Regions from separate parts of the Homo sapiens genome. Here region 2 is linked to region 1. Evidence: fine-mapped expression QTL. A gene starts in region 1. The other region holds a variant in brackets. All regions are shown on one strand. Distances are between the middles of the regions.

Region 1 (8,326 bases):
GACAAACAATCAATAAACGTAATCCGTCACATAAAAAGAACCAATGACAAAAACCACATGATTATCTCAATAGATGCAGAACAGGCCTTCGATAAAATTCAACACCCCTTCGTGCTAAAAACTCTCAATTAACTAAGTATTGATGGAACATATCTCAAAATAATACGTTATTTATGACAAACCCACAGCTAATATCATACTGAATGGGCAAAAGCTAGAAGGATTCCCTTTGAAAACCGGCACAAGACAAGGATGCCCTCTCTCACCACTCCTATTCAACATAGTATTGGAAGTTCTGGCCAGGACAATCAGGCAAGAGAAAGAAATAAACGGTATTCAAACAGGAAGAGAGGAAGTTAAATTGTCTCTGTTTGCAGATGACATGATTGTATATTTAGAAAACCCCATCATCTCAGCCCAAAAACTCCTGAAGCTGGTAAGCAACTTCAGTAAAGTCTCAGGATACAAAATCCATGTGCAAAAATCACAAGCATTCCTATACACCAATAATAGACAAATAGAGAGCCAAATCATGAGTGAACTCCCATTCACAATTGCTACCAAAAGAATAAAATACCTAGGAATACAACCTACAAGAGATGTGAAGGACTTCTTCAAGAAGAACTACAAACCACTGCTCAAGGAAATAAGAGAGGACACAAACAAATGGAAGAACATTCCATGCTCATGGATAGGAAGAATCAATATTGTGAAAACGGCCATACTGCCCAAAGTAATTTACAGATTCATTGCTATTCCAATCAAGCTACCATTGACTTTCTTCACAGAATTAGAAAAATCCACTTTAAATTTCACATGTAACCAAAAAAGAGCCCGTATAGCCAAGACAATCCTAAGCAAAAATAACAAAGCTGGAAGCATCACACTACCTGACTTCAAACTGTACTACAAGGTTACAGTAACCAAAACATGTTACTGGTACCAAGACAGATATATAGACCAATGGAGCAGAACAGAGGCCTCAGAAATAACACCACACATCTACAACCATCTGATCTTTGACAAACCTGACAAAAACTAGCAATGGGGAAAGGATTCCCTATTTAATAAATGGTGTTGGGAAAACTGGCTAGCCATGGGCAGAAAACTGAAAGTGGACCCCTTCCTTATATCTTATACAAAAATTAACTCAGTTCTGAAGGAGGTCGGGGTCAAGATGGATTAAAGACTTAAACGTAAGACCTAAAACCATAGAAACCTTAGAAGAAAACCTAGGCAATATCATCCAGGACATAGGCATGGGCAAAGACTTCATAACTAAAACATGAAAAGCAATGGTAACAAAAGCCAAAATTGACAAATGGGATCTATTTAAACTAAAGAGCTTCTGCATAGCAAAAGAAACTATCATCAGCGTGAACAGGCAACCTACCGAATGGCAGAAATTTTTTCCAATCTATCCATCTGACAAAGGGCTAATATCCAGAATGTATAAGGAATTTAAACAAATTTACAAGAAAAAAACAACAACACTATCAAGAAGTGGGCAAAGGATATGAACAGACACTTAACAGAAGAAGATATTTATGTGGCCAACAAACATGAAAAAATGCTCATCATCACTGGTCATTAGAGAAATGCAACGAGATACCATCTCACGCCAGTTAGAATGGCCATCATTAAAAAGTCAGGAAACAACAGATGCTGGAGAAGATGTGGAGAAATAGGAATGTTTTTACACTGTTGGTTGGAGTGTAAATTAGTTCAACTATTGTCAAAGACAGTGTGGCGACTCCTCAAGGATCAAGAACTAGAAATACCATTTGACCCAGCCATCCCATTACTGGGTATATACCCAAAGGATTACAAATCATTCTACTATAAAGACAAGTGCACCCGTATGTTTATTGCAGCACTATTCACGACAGCAAAGACTTGGAACCAACCCAAATGCCCATCAATAATAGACTGGATAAAGAAAATATGGCACATATACACTATGGAATATTATGCAGCCATAAAAAAGAATGAGTTCATGTTCTTTACAGGGACATGGATGAAGCTGGAAATCATCATTCTCAGCAAACTTACACTGGAACAGAAAACCAAACACCGCCATGTTCTCACTCATAAGTGGCAGCTGAACAATGAGAACATATGGGCACAGGGACGGGAGCATTACACAATGTGGCCTATTGGGGTTGGGGGGCAAGGGAAGGGATAGCATTACGAGAAATACCTAATGTAGATGATGGGTTGATGGGTGCAGCAAACCACCATGACACGTGTATATGTATGTAACAAACCTCCACGTTCTGCACATGTATCCCAGAACTTAAAGTATAATAAAAAATTGAAAAAAGAAATGGAGAAAGACAAGAACGCAGAATTGATCATACCCCATACCTCAGGGAAGCAGAGGAAAGGGAAGATGACTATAGGATCAGCTTATTCTGGAATAGATTCTTGAAGGGCTGGACCTGGGGCTAAGGAACAGGAGAGAAAAGCCTCTTCTATGTACCTTGGTATAATCATAGTGACTCCTAACAATTACCGCTTCCTCAGTAAAATTGTTGAAATTTAGAACAACACTCTTCAAATTAGCCACTAGGGGAAAGGGCAACCAATCTTCTTTTTTTCTAAATCGTTTAACCACATGAATTAATATATAGAAAACTACACTGCAGTGCACACTGTCCCTCAGCAGGCGTGGTGGCATGGAAGGACGCGAACGACCCCGGGAGTGGCGGGTGAGGAGGGAAGGGGAGCGAGCGGGTGCGAGGTGCCCGCGTTTTCCTGGGGCCCGGGAGGGAAAGGGAGAGGGTGTGAGGTGCCTGCCTTCTCGGGGCTTGGGAGGGAAGGTGAGCAGGTTTAAGGCGCCTGCCTTCCTTGGGGCCTGGGAGGGAAGGAGAGAGGGTGCGAGGTGCCCGCCATTCTCAGGGCCTGGGAGGGAAGGGGAGCGGGTGCGAGGTTCCTGCCGTTTTGCGAGGCTGCGGAGCCTGCTGTGTCCCCTTTCCCGCCCACTCTCCGACCTGCAGGCCCACGGCGCTCAAGGTAATAGGGTCCCCAGCCCTGGAATCAACTCCCTGGGTCTCGGAACGCAACCCACACAAACCTGGACCCTGTCTCTCACTGGCGGGGAGTCGCCTTCGCATGCAGACGTGGAGAAGTCGCCTCCACCCGCAGCTCCTCCCGTGGACCCAGGCCGCCTCCCCCACGCCCCTCCCGGAGTCCCCAGACCCTCCGTGGCGCTCCTGGTACCGCCCCCACTGCCCCACTCACAAAGAGCCTCAGCTTCTTCTCGGGGGGCGACTTCCTCAGCCAGCCGCTGTACAGCACGTGGCCACTTCTCGTGCTTCCGCCGGCGGGGCCACTTCCGGGCCACGAAGACAAAGGCGCAAATGCCGGGTCAGGTGGGCACAGCTCCCGGGAGGGTGAGGGGGACGGCAGGGACATGGGGGCTGCAGCTCACAGTGAAGGTGGGGGAGACAGGGCGAGAGGGCGTTGCTGGAGGTGGGGTGTGAGGGACGGCTTGCGATACCCTGGGACTGCGGGGTAGAAAGCGCAGTTCTAGGGGAGGTCGGGGTCAGAGGTGAAGCTCGTGGGGAGGGCGAGACCCGGGCGCAGGTGCTCACAGGCGAGGGCGGGGTTCAGGTTCCAGCTGGGCTTTGAGTTCCGGTTCAGGCTTCCATCTGTGGTTCCGGTTCCAATTTGAGGTGGAGTTTGGGATTAAAGTTTAGACGAGGCCTCTCGTTCAGGGTTTGCGTTGGGGATTGGGGTGGGGATTTGCACCCTGGGTCAGCCTGGGTGCATCTCATCGGGACCACCGGGGCGGGGGACATGGGCCGGGTGGCTCCTTGGGAGAAGAGGGACAGGGAGCGCAGCTGGTGGAGAGGACAAGAACGAGGGGCGCAGCTCATTCAGAGGGCCACAACAGAGTCTCAGGTGCTGAGTCCCATGCGCCAGATGAGGAAAGACAATGGAAGAGTTCAGGTTCCTGCTGGGGTTTGAGTTCCAGTTCGGGATTCGGCCCATGGTTTACCTTCTGACTTGAGTTGGGGTTTGGGGTCAAGGTTCAGGCTAGGACTTGAGTTCCGGGTTGCAGTTTGGGGGTGGGGTTAGGTTTCAGAGTGAGGGTTTGGGCCTGTTTGTGTTGTGTATGTTTGTGAATGTATTGGGATGTCACCGTGTGTACTTATGTCACGTGTGTGCACGCATCAGTGTGTGCATGTGTGAGTGTTCATTGAGTGTGGCACTGACAGCCAACCCCTCTCCTCCCATTTATGCCCCACTGTCTTATCCTGGTTGGGGTGGGCTTTACAAGTTCCTTCCCTGGGCCAGTTGGAGGTTCTCATGTTGCCTGGGGAGAGAAGGGAAGGAGAGAACAGGTCAAAGATGAGGGCAGCTTGGCCTCAACCAGACCCGGTGTCACGGGGACCAAGAAGCCGGAGGTCCTTGTCTCCTGCCTCTGGAGGAGCTTGGTTTGCTTCTTTGTTCACACATTGTGTGAAAGCACAGTTGGGGGCATCTGATATGCACAGGATCTGTTCTTGCCTCTGCAGATGTCTTAGAGAACAGGACAGACAAGGGGCCTCTTCAGTAAGCCATCCCCAATGTGCACTGCATGTCAGCTTACAAGAGGGGCACAGGGGCCCCATCAGGTAGCAGGGAGGATGCAAGGAAGAGTGTGTGGGGATGGGGGTGCTGGGTGGGGCCAGGTGAGTGGGTGCCTGGCTTCTCCTCAGAGCAAAGGAAAGTGCTGAAGAGTGTGAAACTGTGTGACATGTTATGCTTTATGTTTTGAGAATGGATTGCAGGAACAAGCAGACATGGGGGACCTGATGAGGGCCAATGGGATGTCCATAGAGATAAGATTTGGCTTGAGCTGGTGGGAAAAGTGGAGATGGAGCCACATGGAGGAAATTGCAGAGTCTTGAGACTGAGGAGACATGTGGGTGGATGAGATATGAGTAGTGACCCGACCCTGAGGTGGGGAATGGGGGGACAGCCCCGAGGGGAGGTTGGTGAGGTGTATTTGGACCTATTGGGTTGGAGCCCTAGGCAGCATCCTCATGGGAGGACCACTGGGTCCTGGTCAGGCAGACATGGTGCTCAGGGAGACACTGGATGAGGTGGGAGCCATAGACCCTCTGCTGATGGCAAGAATGGGGTTCCTGGAGGTGCTGGCTCCCTCTGCAGGCTGCAGTCATGGCGAGTCAATTCTAAACTCACCATCACAGCTCACACTGTAAAGGACACATACCTTAGTATAAATCAGTTAGCCAACGAGGCCACAGGGTACCCAGTTGGATCCTGCCCTGAGATGAGAGTAGGTTTGGATGGGGTGAGACGGGAGAGAGGCAGTGGCAGGAATGAGGCAGATAAGGTCTTCCTGGATGGAAGGGAGCTCAGCCCCTGCAGTGACCTCGTACCGACTGGGGCCTCAGCAGGAGCCCCGACCTGGGTCCCCGTGGGCCTCTGACTGTCTTCTCCTGGCCTCAGGGTGGAAAGAACCCTCTTCCAGAATATGTCCTCTCCAGCAACATTCTTCCAGCCCCCTACAGTGCGCACAATGGGAACTTCAGGAGAGTGCAGAGACTGCCACAGGGCATGGAAGGCAGGTGTTGCCCCAAGGTCTAGCCTGCCCAGGATGTTGGCTTTGATGACGGTTGGGGGCCACTGTGGGCGACTTATGAGTGTTCTGAGCCTTTTTGTGTGTGTATACAGTGAATTTAAATTTATCCTCTGTGTCTCAAGTGGACAAAAAAAAACCACTTTATTTTCCATTGATGATTTATTTTTCTTGTGTCTTCCATTCCATGGTTGATGGAAAATATATATAAGTTTCTCATAACTTATCTCTGTTTCCTCTGCTTTGCAGCTATCCGTGCCCACCATGGGTCTCACCTCCTCCTTCTGTGAGTGTCTGTCCGGTGGCTGTCGGGGAGGGTCTCCAGCACTTGTGCTGCCCCTGGGACCCTCACTGACCCTGGGCTCCTGGTCTGCCCACCCCTTCGATTCCCCTGGAGTCACACATTGGCACCAGAGTCAGGAATGGGCTCTGCATTTCCCCCTCTGTGGGCCTCGTCTGGCTCCCACAGCCCATGTATCAGCGAACTACTTGGGGGTCACATAGGACCCTCCCCTCCCTGCTGAGCTGGCAGTTCATGCCCCGTGGGTAGGAGGAAGGGCAGAGGGAGAGCTCCAGGGGTGGGCTCCAGTGTGCTCCCTCAGGCTTCTCACTTTGGGCAAAGGACACAGGGCATGAGGGCCTCTCCCTGCGGTCTGGACCAAGCTGACCTGGGTCTTTACCAGTCAGGAAAATAAAATAACTTTTATCTGAGAAATGCAAGTGCTTTAATTATCAGGCCCAGAAAGAGGCATTAAAATGAGACCACAGTCATGTCCTACTCCCTCACATTGAGCTGTGTATTCATTTCTTGATACTGCTGTTGCCAGAAGTAGCTATGAATTTACCTCATAATGCCACACCAGACGCCATACCCCACACCCTATAGCTTAACAGTGTACGGCCCATCACTAAGCAGTGTTATTGCTATGAACCAACTAAAATTCCTGAGGAATTGTATCTGCCCCTTCCCTGCCCACCTTGTTTTGCCTTTAAAAATCAGCTCATAACTGCTGCTAATTGCAGTGTATATTCAGGATAACTTGAATCTATGCTCCAGAGTTGCAATCCTGAAGTTTGTCTCAAATAAACTCTCTACTAAGATTAACTTTGTCTCAGCTTCTTCCTTGTAGGGTGACACCAGGATCTCCTTTCCTGGTGCTGCAGGGCTTCCCTGGACCCTGTGCAGCAGAGATATCCCCTCCACACAGTATTGCCAGCATATTATGTAGAAAAATCATTTTCCCTTTCAACAGGAAGCCCAGTTCTTAGGATTGTTGTTCAAAAATATAATTTAAAGCTTAAAACTGAGCACTTGGGTCTTGGCAGATTTCCCATCTTTCCTCACAGTGGCAAATGTGACTGTCAAGAGCCTGGGCAGCTGAGGACAAGTCTGAGCGGGGCAGAGGTTGTGATCGTACCCTGGCCTGTGTCATCCCCTTGCAGACACCAGCCCTTCTCTATAGAACCAGGGCATCTGCCAGGGATTATTTAGGCCTTGGGTGAGGGTCTGGCAGGGAGCAGTGCAGTGATGGAGGGTGTGGTGTGTGTGTGGCGTGTTGGATGGATACTTCTGGTCCCACCTAGGGAAGAGCTTCCTTTTGGAAGCAGAGGTCTCCTGTGTCCCCACAGAAGGATTCAGGTCTGCTGGCCTTTCCCAAGCACCTTGAAAGTCACCAGTCTTCGTGTCACCTGTCCGTCATGCTATGTGTGTGTGAGAGAGAGAGACAGAGAAAATTGTTCAGGTGGGGGTACCCAGTCTCTGTAGCTGCTGAAAGGCCCTGGGACACATGCTGCATGCTGCCAAGTGTTTGTTTTTTCCTCAGCACATGTCACCATCTGTACCCTGGTGCAGGCTGCTGTGAGCACCAGGCTCTGTGCTAGGGGAGCAGTGAGGGGACTTGAAGAGACTCAGGGTCCCATGTTGAGGCTGAGCTGGCACATAGTAAGGAAGACAGAATGCTCCTGGCACAGGTGCTGCTTGGCCTCTGGGTGTGGACATCAGGAGGGCTTCTTGGAGGAGGAGGGAGGGCTTGCTGAGGAGGAGGCTGCCACTCCCAGGGTGAGTTCTGATCATGCTGCCTGATCCCTTTCCTCATCCCATACTCTGCTTCTAACCTGGATGGGGGCCCACAGGGCCAGCGTGCAGCTGAGCCAGGACTGTGCCAGCACCTCGCAAGGAGCCTTGGAATTCAGTGTGCGAGAGGCCACTGCAGTACTCACCTGTGACTCAGCATGTCCCTGGAAATCTGTCAGCCTGGAGGAGAGCAGGAGGGCATGGGGACACCTCCTAGGGGCCCCAAGTTTGGAGGATATGCTGCCAGCAGAGTGTGAGGAGTGAGAGGCACCGCTGCCTGCCTACCTGCCACTGGAGGACCAGGCCCCTACATCCCCGACAAGCCTGCTCACCGAGACTGAGTGGGGTAGCAGTGGCTACTATGCCTTGGGCTGCTCTGGAGGGATGCAACCCTTCAGCCCTCTCAGGAAGCACATGGAGCCCTGAACCCATCCCAGCCCTGCCCCATGGCCTGTCACATGACCACTGGGGCTTGGAGACCTAGCGAGGAGGTACCTGGGCGGTGAATGGTCCAAGCTAGAGGCATGGGCTGCACAGGGACATCCAGGGCCCACAATCCCCTCCTGTCTTCACCATGGCTCAGTCCTGAAATTTCTAGGGCCCAGACACAGCCACCTGCATCGTGTCCATCTTAGGGAAGATGGACAAAAGTCTCTGGA
Region 2 (8,326 bases), 49 kb before region 1:
CGAACAGGGGCTGCAGCAGTGGACTGGGACAGAGGTGGAGCTTGCTGCTTTGCAGGGGTCTGTATGTTCTTTCCTGGGGAACCACGGAGAAAGGGGTGTGGGGGCTGCTGTGGGTGGGATGATGTTGACATGAACTCTGTGGCAGACCAGAGCCCCAGCCTTAGAACCCTGGCATCACAAGATGTTAGGACACACTAATTTTTGGCTCCTGGGGCTATGGGATGTCAGAGCTAGAAGGGACTTCGGGGGTTACCTTGCTATACCGCTTATTTTCCAAACCAAGGTCATTGCTGTGTTTCTGATCCCAAACACTCTGGGCCAAGTGTTCACCTTCTCTTCCTCCAGGTCCCATGCCTCCAGCCTCACCTTGAACTAGAAATGCCTGTTCTGCCTTCGGCCTGGAGGCCATGGGTGAGGAGAAGCTCCTTTGGGGCCTTTGCTTACCCTGGGCACTCCTGCTTTTTTGTGAAGCTTCAAACACTCTTGGCTTCATTTGAGAACAACTCACAGCCTTTTATTTCCAGGCTGCAGTGGCTCTTTGCCTTCCTGGATCACAGCCAAGTGTGTGCAGGGGGAGGAGTGGGTGGAAAGGAAGCTCTGGTCAGGCCTCCACAGTGACACCCTCCCTGCCCCAGGACCTACCTGCATCTGACTACAAGAGCCTACTTCATGGAAGAAGCTATTGAGCCCTTGTCCATGCTAGCACAGGTTCATGACAGAGACTGTGGGGCCATGGCAGGGCCCCCTCGAGCCCCATTCTGTACTGCTGCCCACATCTCTCTCTCCAGTGATTCCACCTACTGCATTAAGTCTGGGGCCTTCATGTGCTGTAAGTATCATTCATCTACTGTGACCTCTGAGCACCCACATTGCCAGGCATCCCTGGGCTGTTGAGGGTACAGAGGTGAATGAAGAAGGTGAACAAGAAGGGGGAGAATGGCCTGGGACCAGGGACCCACAGGACACCACTACCCTCTCTGTGAAGGCGCTGTGTGGTCTCCAGCTTTGACTTGAACCTGGTCAACTACTTCCTGTTCCCTCAGGCTGACAGCAGAGAACCGCTGCTCCAGCGAGGTGGGTGCTGTCCTGAAGGGTGTTGAACAGGCAGGGGCCTGAGCCAGGCGCCACACTACCTCATCCAGAGATTGCTGTGCTTCCCCTTCAATGCAGGAACTGCAAGATCCTGGGTGACATCACTGCCCCACTTGCTGGTGCCAGGCCAGGACTGTGGACTAGCACTGAACCAGCACTCTCTGGAGTGTCCCAGGAGAGCCGTCCCAACCACTGCTAAGCCCGCAAGGGTGCTGCCGCCTAGGCCCTATGGGAACTGCCCACACAGGTGGCCTTCTCCTGCTGTCTATCTGCAATGTCCCCTCCCTTTTACCCAAGGAAGGTCTGTGTGCTCTTTTACCAGCAGTGGCCTAGGGAGGGGCCCAAGGCTGAGCCGGGCTCTCCCAGAGTCTGGACCATGTCCACCCTCCATAGGGCTGAACGGAAGCCATTTCCAAGGACAGCAGCATCCTCACCTGTGGAAGAGCAGACACACCAGGATCCTGGATTTGATCTCCTGGGTGGAGATGCATCCAGTCCCAGCCAAGCACTGGTTCGATACAATATTTCCCTTCACTTTGAGCCTTTTAAAAAAATCCATCCATCCATTCATTCATTCATTGCTCAGTGCTCGGAATATATCGGTGGCCCAGGCACCTAACCCCTTACTTCAGAGGAACAGACTTTGAATAATGAATTATGCAGTTGTTTAGTAAGTGTGCTGTTCTACGAGTGTGAATGGCCAAGTGTCAGTGGGAGGTTAGTTCTACCTCCTAACTGTGCCTGTGACTCCACCCTTTAGAGTTAAGGGTGGTATCAAAATATTTAACAACTGGAACAGCAAAGGCTTTGGCCAGCAGGATGAGTTTCAGCCATGGACAGCCAGAGCAGTAGCTGAGGGCTGAGCGAGGGCAGTCCAGTGATCTTCTTGTGCCTTGACCATGCTATAGCCTCTTTTCTATGAAGAGAAAGACCCTTGTTCTCAAGCAGTATGAAACCAGCCTCTCTGAAGCCTTTGAAAGCTGTTGCTCTTCCTGTATGCTGTACCCTCGATTTCCTCACTGCATCTGGGCAGCATGATAGGGACCCATGCTGCTCCTTGGTAAGGAGAGGACATACCCCTGTCCCCATCACTTGAGGTACAGCATGGAGTGACAGCCCTGTGTGCTGAAGGACTTGCCTAGTTCTGAGGCTGGGAGGACCTAGAGGATGGAATGGAAGAGAGAGGAAGGGTGCACAGGATGGGGGGTCCCAGTGGAATACTGTGGAGGGGACTCACCTCTCAGGTGCACTTGAAACCCAAATAAATAACTGGAAATGTTTCAGACCCAAGAATTCTGGACTGCCCACAAACACCTGTTGCAGATGCCACATCCCTCTTTCCTTGCATCTGAGAAGCTGGGGAGGTTGAGAGGGGGTTGTCACATCTCCAGAGCTGGACTTGGCATGGGTCAGGGCTAGCTGGGAGGCAGCCCCCTGTTTCTCCAGAACTCGAACCCATCTCCTTCCCATGGACACCATCCCATCCAGGAGCTGGAGAGGAGCACATGAGCAGCCACACTGGCAGGGCCCAGGACCAGCTGTCACCACAGGGCCATGGTGCACCTACCATGCCTACACCTAGCTCCTTACCACAGGCAACAACCCAGCCTGGAGCTAGAGAAACGCAGGAGCAGCCACACTCGCAGAGCCCAGGATCAGCCCTCACCACAGGTTTCCCACTCCAGAGCCCGCACCCGGCTCCTTTCCTGGGCCCCACCCCATCCTGGAGTTGAAGCAGAGAAGTGGGGCATGTACGGGGCTTGGGAGCAGCCCTTACCACAGGGTCCGCAAGCACCATTCCTACAGTGCCATTTGGGAGAACATGGAAGGTAAAAAGGCACCAGGGACCTCAAGGGCTGCCCCACTTGTGCAGTGGGTGGAGCAGTGGAGGGGAGTTGTGAGATGTCAGACCTCAGGAACCTGTTGCCAGGGGCCCAGTGGACACAGACACAGATGAAGCCCTCTCAGAACCACCTCTAGACTCCCTTCTAAGAAAGACGGATTGGCAGGTGCTAGCACAATGTCCAGTTTACAGATTAGGAAAGTAGATTCTGTGATAAAGAGAATTTATTTTCTCTCTGAGCCAGGAAAAGTACCTATTTCCTATTTAAGATGAAGTGAACAGACTGGCACAGTGGCCTTCCTGGGTCATTGGAGAAATGATTCTGAAATGGTTTTCTTGTTGACAGTGTGTGTCTGTGCCTGCCCAGGGCAGCCAGGTGCTCAGGCTCAGCCTAAGGTGAGACTTGAGTGAGTGTGGGCTCCACTCCCAGAAAGACCCAAGCAGCCCACCCTGGGCTGTATTCCTCATGAACTTCACTACCGTCCTGCTCCAGTGCTTCAGTACAAAGGAGCCTGCCAGCACGAGGCCTGTCCAGTGACCACAGCAGAAATGATAGCCTCTTGAGCACACTCCTGTCACCCCCAGGTGTGCTCACAGGGTAAATACACATAACAAAAGTTTTAAAAGAAAATGGAATAACTTCAGTGATTAGGCACCAACAGTGATTTGAAAAATGAAATGTCGGCCGGGC[A/G]CGGTGGCTCACGCCTGTAATCCCAGCACTTTGGGAGGCTGAGGCGGGTGGATCATGAGGTCAGGAGATCGAGACCATCCTGGCTAACAAGGTGAAACCCCGTCTCTACTAAAAATACAAAAAATTAGCCGGGCGCGGTGGCGGGCGCCTGTAGTCCCAGCTACTCGGGAGGCTGAGGCAGGAGAATGGCGTGAACCCGGGAAGCGGAGCTTGCAGTGAGCCGAGATTGCGCCACTGCAGTCCGCAGTCCGCAGTCCGGCCTGGGCGACAGAGCGAGACTCCGTCTCAAAAAAAAAAAAAAAAAAAAAAAAAAAATGAAATGTCAATTTTAAATGGTACCAAGACAAGAACTTAAGACTGGGCTTCTTGCCCATTTTCTCTTAATGAGAAACCAAACATTCTGTACAAAATGATTCTAAACAGCAAGATACAAGTAGCCAACAAATACACAAGGACACACACCGCTGGACCAAACATACCAGCCTGACTCTGCAGTGGGCTCTCAGCAGGCAGACGGCCATCGTCCCAGGCCTCAGGGGCCTGGTGTATCCCAGAATGATGCTCTTAGTGCTCTGCAGGTCAGCCTCCCCTCCCCCACACTTCCCAGATCAAGGCCCAGGCCCAGAACAGAAGTGCTCACTTCCCTGTCCTGCATGTCCCTGGGGGTCACAGTCATGTGGGTGATGCTGTGCCAGGGCCTGGGACTAAGATGACAGCCTCACAGCACGTTGAAGGACCACAAGGCCGACTACAGCTGAGCCTATGTTCCCATAACCAGAATGGTTGTGCTTCTGCCGTAGGAATGTGGTCTATTTTAATAGTTTGAAATGAAGAAGTTGTCCATATCAAGCCAGAAAGGGACTAATTGGCCAAAGCTCTCGTGCTGCTCATCCCTTGCGATGCAGAGCCTCCAGAGAGAAGTAACAGAGCAAGGAGCTCCGAGACCAGCAGAGCCTCAGCCTAGGAAGGGGCCAGACAACATCGAATCCAACCACCCACTCCACAGATGGGAAAGCAAAGTCCTAGGGAGATGTCCTTGCCCGTTTCTCATTGTTCCCACCTGACTGCTCTCTAACTTTGCAGGTGGTGGGGGTGGGTGAAGACGGCTCCCCTGGAGAGCCCAGCAGGACAAGCCCCCATGTGAGCTGCACTGGCTGAGGTGTCCCTTTTTGGGGTCTCAGTCCTGGCCAGGCCACCAGGGGAGGTGGACTTTAACCTCAAGATAGGTCCAAGGACCCCTGTATTAAGCTGAGTTGACTTTTCCTTCTGGGATGGTGGGTGGAGGGGGGGATACATGCTAGACATGGCTGGAGTCCAGGCTTGGGAGTAGAGCTCTGCTTCCAATAGGCCAGTGTCCTCTTCTCTTGTCCTTCTTTCCATCTCCACCCCTACTTTCACCCTCAGGGTTTGGTGGTCACAGGAACCAAGAGCTGGAAGGAACCCCTCTGGAGATGGGACTTGAACACCTCAGTCTCTGAAGCCTCCACCAAGTTCATGCACACCATGCACACTCAGAACATGCAGCACTTTCTTAGCAGCCTGGGATCAACAGGGAAGGTGGCTGGGCTGGGAGCTGAGATCAATACTGGGCCCCACTGTAGTCAGCTGGGGACAGGGGATGGCAGTTAAGAGCTGTGCTGTATGGGACCCCTTGTAGAGGACCTTACAGGGACACAGTCAGGGCTGGGCCAGTGAGCCAGCACCCTGCACACTCTGCCCAGTGTGGTCACACAGCCATCACCATTCCACCCGTGGGAGCACAAAGGCCCGGCCCCTGCAGTTCTGAGCAGCTGGACCTGCCCTCCAAAGCTCCTGTGGCCCCTCAGCACAGGCTTTTCCAGTCTGTCGTTCCTTCCTCCACTGCAGCCTGGCCCTGCCCTCCTTCCCTGCAAAAATCTGACCTAACCTCTCAAGACTAATTCAGGCACCCCTTGTCCTAAAAACCACCTTCTCTGCCTCCACTCCCTGAGGAGTTTTCACTTCCTGTGCACCCCATCAGCATCTTCAGCCTATCTTGGCCATCACCACTGTCTGTGTCCTTGTCCTTTCCCTCACTGATGTGACCTTGTCACGTTTGGGAAAAGGTCTAATAGATTCCCCGTGTCCTCAGTGCCTAAGCCCGGGGCCTTGCCACCTGAGCCTTTGAGCTGCCAGGGGAGAGGGCTCCTGCTGAGGGATGGATCCCCAGAAGCCAGCCAGGCCCCTGGTCTGGTGAAGTGTGGTGCTCACAGGTGCTGACAGGGTGTGGAGGCCGCCTCCATCAAACCCTGTGGGCAGTCATTTTTTGGAGGAGGAAAGTCTGTTCACCCCAAGGTAGGATGAAGTGTCCGCTCTGCCCTGTTCATTCTGAAACTCTTCGAAATTTTGGTCAAAAACTTTCAACAAAAAATTCAGATCCCTACCTGAACTTTGGCACAAGAAGCCCTGGGTGAGGGCCTACCTTCTGAACCTGCGATTTGAGAATCTCTCAAGTCACAGGAGGAGGAGACTGGCTTCTCCTGTCCCCATAGCCAAGTTTGAGTCCAATGTGGCACTGGAACGCCAAGGAAGAGGGCGAAGTGAGAGGGAAACACGGCCTGGCACAGCCTCAGCCCCACCCCAGGCCGTCCTCCCTGCAGGCTCTACCCGCGTCCCAGATGCCCCTCCAGCTGGCCTCCCACACTGCTCCCATGCATAGCAGACCCCCCTTCACCTTCTGCTCCTGTATTCCTTTCACCACTGATGGCATGCCCCCAGGGCCCCTGGCCACATTTCCCCACTTCTCCCTGGCTGTCTCCCCGGCCTTGCCTCCCATGGGTTCCCTCTGTGCCCTCCCCACTGCTCTGCCCCTTCACAGAAGGTCACGTGCTGCACCACCTGCACTGCGGAGTCCCGGGCCCTGCCTCGGGCCCCTGCCTGTCCCAGGAGCCCCTCAGCCCTGAGCCATCTCCATCTGCACATGCTCCCTTCCTCCCTCACTCCCTGCCCCATCCCACCCCTCACCCTGCAGGTATTTCCCCCATCAGTTGCTGCTTTGCCCAGCTCAGATCAAGCCTTCTTAGGCAGGCAAGGGCCCCCCAAGGGGCATCAGCAAAGAGCAGCAGAGCCAGCCTGCAGCTCCGGATTTCTGGGGCCCTGACCCTGGTCCTTGTCACCCCAGTCTCTGGAGCTCCAGCCCTGCTTCTTGTGGCTTTCGGCTGTTCGTCTTCATGTTTTCCCTTCCTTTTGCCCTTCCCTCTCTGCCTCTCCCACCCGGGAGCAGCTGCCATACTCTGGCCTCAGTCTGAAAGTGGGAGCCCTTGCAGGTATCAGCTGCCCTGCTGGTCTAAGGATCTAATTCCTTTGCTTCTCAAGACCACCTTTAACCTTCCTTCTCAACTATTCCAACGTTTGATGGCCTTGCCTCTCCCCTGACCAAAAAATGCCAGGGCTGAAAAGGTCCATGTCCACTGTGGCCTGTGGGCCTTGGGTCCCCGGGTCAGCAAGGTAGCTCCTCATGTTCCAGGATTGAGGGAAACAGCCCAGAGGCTAGAAGGAAGAGGCTGAGGACCATGAGTAAGTGTGAGAGTGGAAATCTGTTGGGAGCCCGGGTCTGAGGGGCAGGAAGAGACTGAGGATGCTTGCTGGCAACTGCTCCTAGCAAGGGGGTGAAGGTGGGGACCATGGCCAGCCAAAGGCACAGGTGGGCCCCAAGCAGGCAAAGGATGTATATTGATCAGGCCTCTGCTCTCTATGTAAGGGATGCGGTCCCTGATATTACAGAGCTTTAGAGTGTGGCGGAGCAGCTCTGAGGCACTGTCCTGGCCCCACTCTGGTTTTGGTGGCCCGAGTCACAGCTTGGCGCCCCTGGGAGGCTCTGAGGACTGCCGCAGGCACATCTGTTCATGCATGGTCTTCTGCAGGGCCTGGGTCTTCTCCAGATCCACCTGGACATAGTCCACCTTCTTGCCGGACGTGACAGAGCCTATGGATGGCTGAGGGACAGAGGGTGGAAGTGGGAGTGGCAGTGTCTGTGAGTTCCTGGTGAGGAAGGGCAGGCCAAGGAGTGGGCTCTCTCAAACTTTCTCAGGGGGAAGGAACCTCTGCCTCCTGCTCTCAGCAGCCTGGGGGGCCTGGGCTTTAAAGCCTCAACTCCAGGCTAACCTCTCCTCCTGCTGGATGCCATAGCCCTGGCCAGCACTTCTCATCTCCCACCTCGCAGGAAGAGCCAGGCCCTTCTCTGGCCCAAGGACTGGCCAAGGCCTTCCCCTCTAAACACTCATCCATGGCAGGAAATTTCCCAGGTGTCAACAAGCACCAGCCTAGGCCTTTCCAGGGGTGCCCTTGGTGAGCCCTATCTCCCCAAGGGGCGCAATGCACAGAGATGGAGCTCTCCACCCTGCTGTCTAGACAGGCTGGCTACATGTGCTTTCTCGGGAGGCTTTCCTGGACCCAGGAGTTCCTTCTGAGGTCCCCCGCATCAATGGCCGGGCTCTAGAACCCTCCCACACAGTGAGTTCTCCTCACAGAAGAGTTTGGCCTGGAGCCAGGTTGCCGGTCCTGGGTCTCTCCTGATTTATTCCACAACCTCCACAGATCAGGTCTCCACACAGTCATCTGTCTCTAATGGGGAGTCGGGGCAGGCTGATGAAGGCACCACGCTGAGAGGGAAGGAACAGGAGCCCCGAGATCCAGATCAGAGCACCACTGAGCATAAGAGCCAGGCACTGGGCTGGGAGTGG

Which allele goes with the higher level. Positions count from the first base shown, and alleles are read on the strand shown. Sizes are in standard deviations (SD) of each study's normalised expression.
For the expression in testis of the gene that starts at base 3,525 in region 1, G is the high allele of the variant in region 2 and A is the other (small effect, 0.36 SD a copy in GTEx).

The links. PIP is the estimated chance that this variant, and not a neighbour inherited with it, causes the effect.
Region 2: its variant is fine-mapped to the expression of GAB4 in testis (GTEx, PIP 0.99).

Annotation. Positions count from the first base shown.
Region 1 is chr22:17,004,698-17,013,023 of GRCh38, forward strand. GAB4 (GRB2 associated binding protein family member 4) reads right to left here and starts at 3,525. Exons shown (of 10, transcript NM_001037814.1): 1 at 3,244-3,525. The coding sequence starts at 3,417. It also overlaps the pseudogene IL9RP6.
Region 2 is chr22:16,955,298-16,963,623 of GRCh38, forward strand. It overlaps GAB4 (GRB2 associated binding protein family member 4), which reads right to left. Exons shown (of 10, transcript NM_001037814.1): 10 at 6,639-7,579. The coding sequence ends at 7,436. Among named protein-coding and RNA genes, the nearest start is that of GAB4, 49 kb to the right of the region's middle. The variant A/G (reference allele first, on the strand shown) is at 3,627.